Linked DNA regions of Homo sapiens: region 1 is linked to region 2. The links come from fine-mapping of genetic effects on gene expression. A gene starts in region 2. The other region holds a variant in brackets. All regions are shown on one strand. Distances are between the middles of the regions.

What was found. PIP is the estimated chance that this variant, and not a neighbour inherited with it, causes the effect.
Region 1: its variant is fine-mapped to the expression of RWDD3 in lymphoblastoid cells (GENCORD, PIP 0.95). The same link has a PIP of 0.9 or more in T cells and iPS cells.

What each region holds. Positions count from the first base shown.
Region 1 is chr1:95,182,862-95,185,766 of GRCh38, reverse strand. All of the region lies in intron 6 of TLCD4 (TLC domain containing 4), which reads right to left. The region is part of intron 6 of TLCD4-RWDD3 (TLCD4-RWDD3 readthrough); the gene reads right to left. All of the region lies in intron 3 of RWDD3-DT (RWDD3 divergent transcript), which reads left to right. Among named protein-coding and RNA genes, the nearest start is that of RWDD3-DT, 50 kb to the left of the region's middle. The variant AG/G (reference allele first, on the strand shown) is at 1,414.
Region 2 is chr1:95,233,027-95,235,931 of GRCh38, reverse strand. It overlaps RWDD3 (RWD domain containing 3), which reads right to left and starts at 1,722. Exons shown (of 4, transcript NM_015485.5): 1 at 1,617-1,722. The coding sequence starts at 1,701. The region is part of intron 7 of TLCD4-RWDD3 (TLCD4-RWDD3 readthrough); the gene reads right to left. It overlaps RWDD3-DT (RWDD3 divergent transcript), which reads left to right and starts at 1,950. Exons shown (of 4, transcript NR_125949.1): 1 at 1,950-2,232. RefSeq lists silencers at 1,262-1,441, 1,652-1,981.

The sequences.
Region 1 (2,905 bases), 50 kb after region 2:
ATTAACATTATTTTATGTTATTTGCATTATATACTATATTCTTATAATAAAGCTAGAGAAAAACGTTATTTTCTAGAGAAAAGAAAATCATAAAGAAAAGAAAATATATGTACTATTAAGTGAAAGTGGATCTTTGTAAAGGTCTTCATTCTCGTCGTCTTCACGTTAACTAGCCTTGAGTAAGAGAAGGAGTTGGACTTGCTGTCGCAAAGGTGGCAGAGGTGGAAGAGGTGACGAAGTTGGAAGGAAAGGCAGGCACACTTAGTGCAAATTTTATTGAAAAAAATAGATGTGTCAGTGGACTCATACAGTTCAAACCCATGTTGTTCGGGAGTCAACTGCATTAGAGTCCATCAACCATGAATTCCTTCCACTCTGACCCCAAGATCTCAAAACTTCTTCTCAGGCACCTTTACCTTTCAACTCAGAGGAGAGTCCTCATCTTCTAGGATTTATTCAATAAACTACCCTGCCTTCCCTTGTTCTACCAAGTTCCCCTTCTATAAATTGATTCTTCTTTTACCAACGTGCTCAATTCCTGCTAATCCAAAAACCTCCCCTCCACTGCTTCTCTTCTTTGCCAGTTTTTTGAAAGGAGAGTCAGACATATTCACAGACATTCTTACTACACTCCCAAACCCAAGACGATATGACTGCAACTCTACAAAAGAAATTAGTCAGTTACATATGTGCACATGTACCCTAAAACTTAAAGTATAATTTAAAAAAAAAGAAAAAAAAAAAGAAATTGGTCACCCATAGCTTCCTCATAACCATAGTGTTAGCTTCTGCCAATTTTTCCATCTAACCAGTGCCTGGTCTTTAAACCAGTTTCTTTCAAAGGAAAGAACCCAAATATTAACTCAAGGTGAAATAATATTTACATAACTGTCCTCCTTACCTCCCTCTTCCATGGCAGAAAGATCACTTATTTTGTTGGAATCCACCTCTTCTTACCTAATTAGAACATTCTTTCATTCTAGCAAATAAAGACTAACAGTTTGTGAAGGTATGTACTGAATCTGAGAGGAAAGAGGGGAAGGGAGGAAAACATGCATGTGGGAAGGAAGGAAAGAAGAACAGCAACACTTTCTTTTACCCACCATTTACTGTTATTACTAAGACAGGCATAAAAGACAGCAAATTGTATGTATTTATTAATACAATCCTCCCTTCACTCCAGAGAGAAAATCCTAACTTTGGTCATTTAGCAATTATTCCTCCTCCTACCCTTCTAAAGGAACTTGAACCTTCCCATTAAGTTTACTGGGAGTTAATTGTGTAGAGGTATCGTACTCACTAAAAATTGTGTAAAAACTAGAAAAAGTGTAAAAACTAGGAATTATTTGCTCTAATTCACATTTACATTTGGAAAGAGGATGGAGGGCTATTTGCAGGCACAGAAAAAAAAAA[AG/G]TGAGAAAAGAGGACAGGGACAAATAATTGATCCTTGATGGCACTGGTTTGTTGAGTTTTAGAGGAGTTGAGAGTCAGAAGTTTGAGAGAGCCTTAGGAAAGCTGTGGGGTCAAGATATTGTGAGTCCAAGAGGAATGAAGAGAATTTTAAGAAGTGCTGTTGTGAGTAACAAACTGGATCTTTGTTGACATCCTTGGAAAAACTCCAATAAGGATTTGGATGCTGTACTGTTTCTGGAACTCTGTGAAGGGACTGGGCTGTAAGCTGACTCTACTTACATCTTAGTTGCAAATGTAATTTCTTCAGGCATGTAAACATTTGTATTTAATAAACATTAACCCTGGAAGGTTAGGAATTTAAGAACTGAATTTTAGACAAGTTTCCCTCCAGCTTCATATTATTTTGGTTCCCCTACTACTCCTAAATTATTCCTTCATTATATCTACTCTTCTTTCTCTGATTCTCCAATCTTGTTTTTTTGTTTTTTTTGTTTTTGTTTTTTATGTTGTTGTTTTTTGAGACAGTCTTGCTCTGTCGCCAGGCTGGAGTGCAGTGGTGCGATCTCGGCTCACTGCAATCTCCGCCTCCCAGATTCAAGCGATTCTCCTGCCTCAGCCTCCTGAGTAGCCGGGACTACGCGCCACCACACCCAGCTAATTCTTTTTTGTACTTTTAGTAGAGACGGGGTTTCACCATGTTGGCCAGAATGGTCTCGATCTCCTCCTGACCTTGTGATCTGCTCGCCTCGGCCTCCCAAAATGCTGGGATTACAGGCGTGAGCCACCACACCTGGCTGATTTTCCAGTCTTAAACATTTAACTCTAATCTTCTAAATATATCTTTTCTCACAGGTTAAAATATCACCTTATTCTGATCATCCCAACATTCCTCTCTCGAGCTCTCACTAAATTTCCACTCAGATGCTCTGTTTGTCCTCTTATCCAATATCTCCGCACTAAATTCGTCACCTTCCCTCTCAGTCTTCCTAATTCTCTGTCACTTTTGATGGGCACATTTCTCTGGGTCCAATATAGGATTTGTCTTAAACTTGTCCGTATTCTCTAATTTTTTATCCGTTCATTGCCAATTTCATTTCATTTCTTCAAAATCTCTATTTTGTCATCTCTCTAGTCCCACAGCTTAATATGGACTCTTATTTACTTTCGGAACTAATAAAATTACACTGTCCATTCACACAACTAAGAACTGGGTAACCTAACCCAAACTTTTGTCTCCAGTGTTACAATCTATCCTACAAATATCAAAAGTTATAACCACTCAGTGCTCTTTCCAGAATGTCTTTCTCCACTATAATCTCACTGTCTACTGGGTCAAGTTCAATCAGCTCTCCCAGACACTCAACATCCTCTACATCTATCCACCCTACCCCTAAGACATACTCTTTGATCCTATACTTTCTCTTTCCCATAGCATGTTTATTTCACTTTTCAAAATCCTATGTTGATTCTTTTCTTCTTGAATGAAGGCCC
Region 2 (2,905 bases):
TCTGAAAGCTAAGTGAAAACTGAGTCACTTTCTCATACATGGCAGTGTTTTTTCTTTTTTTTTTATTCAATAGAAGCCACATACAGGGACAGTAAGTTTCACCTATCATCAAAAAATAGTCAAAAGAACCTCTCTACACTGTAAGCTCCTAGAGGCCATGGGTAGCGGTGTCTCTGAAACCCTGACAAAGTCTGTAGGCAGCAGGGATTCAATAAATGTGGGCTAAATGACTAATAAAGCCCTCAAGAGCTTGTTTAAAAAAAAGTATCAGAAGGCCAGGCACCTGTGGCTCACGCCTGTAATCCCAGCACCTTGGGAGGCCGAGACGCGCGGATCACGAGGTCAGGAGATTGAGACCAGCCTGGCCAACATGGTGAAACCCCGTCTCTACTAAAAATACAAAAAATTAGCCAGTCATGGTGGCAGGCGCCTGTAGTGCCAGCTACTCGGGAGGCTGAGGCAGGAGAATGGTGTGAACCCAGGAGGTGGAGCTTGCAGTGAGCCGAGATCGCGCCACTGCACTCCAGCCTGGGGGACAGAACAAGACTCTGTCTCAAAAAAAAAAAAAAAAAAAAAAAAAGGCCGGGCGCAGTGGCTCACGCCTGTAATCCCAGCACTTTCGGAGGCCGAGGCGGGCGGACCACGAGGTCCGGAGATCGAGACCATCCTGGCTAACACGGTGAAACCCTGTCTCTACTAAAAAAAAAAATACAAAAAATTAGCCGGGCGTGGTGGTGGGCGCCTGTAGTCCCAGCTACTCGGGAGGCTGAGGCAGGAGAATGGCGTGAACCCGGGAGGCGGAGGTTGCAGTGACCCGAGATCGCGCCACTGCACTCCAGCCTAGGCGACAAAGCAAGACTCCGTCTTAAAAAATAAAAAATAAATAAAATAAAATAAATAAAATTCAGCCAGGCATGGTGGCACGCGCCTGTGATCCCAGCTACTCGGGAGGCGGAGGCTGCAGTGAGTCCAGATGGATCCACTGCACTCCAGCCAGGGCAACAAGAGAGACTCCACCTAAAAAAAAAAAAGTATCAGAAAAGCAATCAACTTGGAAATAGAATGCAGATAAAGTTGAGGTTGAGCACTGGATAAATGAAAAAGTTCAGTCAACAAACATTTACCTACTACCTACCAGGTGCCTGGAGTCATTACCAAACAGACCCTGCCCTCCTGCAACTTAAGACCTACAAATACCCGTGTAGAGTTAGAACCGGGGAGTGCTCTCGGGGGGGCCTAGGGCATAGTGCTTAGGAAGGACACAGAACAACGAGGGGGCGTCAGCACAGGCTTCTTTATAGGGTGAGATCTGAGGGGTGGGAGGCTGGGGGAGGGCCTGGGGGTGCGCACGCAGGGGCCCCCGGCTCCGGGAGCGGGACCGGCGGCAGAGGCCCCAGTGGGCCGCGCCGCTCTCTTAGTGTTTCTGGGGTCGCCTCACACTCCCGCCCGCTGCGACACCACTCCGGCCTCCGGGCGTGTCATTCCATCATTCAACTAACCCGGTCCCCATACGTGGGCCCAGGCGGGGTGCCCAGGCTCCGTGGTGGGGAGGAGACGCAAAGCGAACGCGGGTGGCCCCTGAGGGCGCCCTGTCCCTCCCGCGCGCGGGTAGTCACCTGAGCGGCTCAGCACCTCCCACTCGTGGGGCCTGCAGAAAATCGCGGCCAGGACCGAGAGCTCCTCCTGCACAGGCTCCGCCATGGCTGTGGGCCCCACCGCCTCAGCGCTTCCCCTTCCGCTGCCGCAGCCGCCGCCTCCACCGGCCAGGAGCAGCACTGCCCGCGGCCACCCGGGGGCGCCCCGCGCCTCCGCAACCGGGCGGGACGGGGGCGGGGCGAGACGGAGCTGGGGCGAAGCGAAACGGGACGTGGGCGAGGCGAGTCCGGGCGAGGGTCAGGGCAGACGGGGCGGGCGGGGCCCTTAGAAGTTCCGCCCAGAAGCTCCTGCTCAGTAACTACAGACGCGAAGCTCAGCCTCTCGGTTTGGGAATTTTCTTGGAGGCCGAGGCCCTGCGCCTCTGTCTGCACCCAAGGCGACCGCCCAGCTTACCCCCGGCTCTTCTGAGCACAGGGAGGCCTCCCAGCAAAGCCTGAACCCTCTAAGTTTAGCTGCAGGCTTCGAACCCCGACCGTCCCCGCCGAGCCTTGGGCTGCTGAGGTGGGGATGAACTGGGCGAAAGACACTTGGGAGTTAGGAAGAAACAAACAAGCAGGGAAGTGACCAGGAGACAAGGTGAGACTTTGCCCGGCTCAGGTCTGAACTGAGTGTTGGAGATAACCACAGTTAACAAAATAAACAAAATTATTCGCCCCCGTGGAGCTGTTAGCAACCCTGGTGCCTGGGAAGCCTGGAAGAGGCTCGGGTTAGTAACAACCTCCAGGATGCCCTCCGAACTGGTACTGGCGCCGGGACTCTAGACAAGGTCCAGATTCCCGGGCCCTTCCCCTTACGGGTGCAAAAAGGGAGGGTCAGGACCTGCCAGTCCTGGCTTCAGGATGTTGACTGGACGGACCTGGACTCATGGGAACTGTGCGCCAAAGTCCTGGGAGCAAAGTGTCATAACGCTCCTCGTTTGTCTCTTGCCTTCACAGGAGACAGCCCTGCTGCAAGCGGCCAGTGGGAATCCTTGGCCTTTGGGGGTATGATCCAAGAATGTAAACGCTAGCTTTTCAGTGTTTTCGATTTCGTGATATTCAATGCATACAATACAATGTGACTCTTGAAGCTTAATAATAAAATTATCATTCTTGAGCCCAGCACCTAAATTTTAAAATGTGAGCAATACCAATAGGGTAACAGAATAAGCAATCCATTCTGTTTTGACTATAGTGAACAAGATTACAAGACTTATCTGCAGTTAGGTCTGTCTCTCGGATGTTTGCCTGGTCTTTTTGCTGTTCAAATA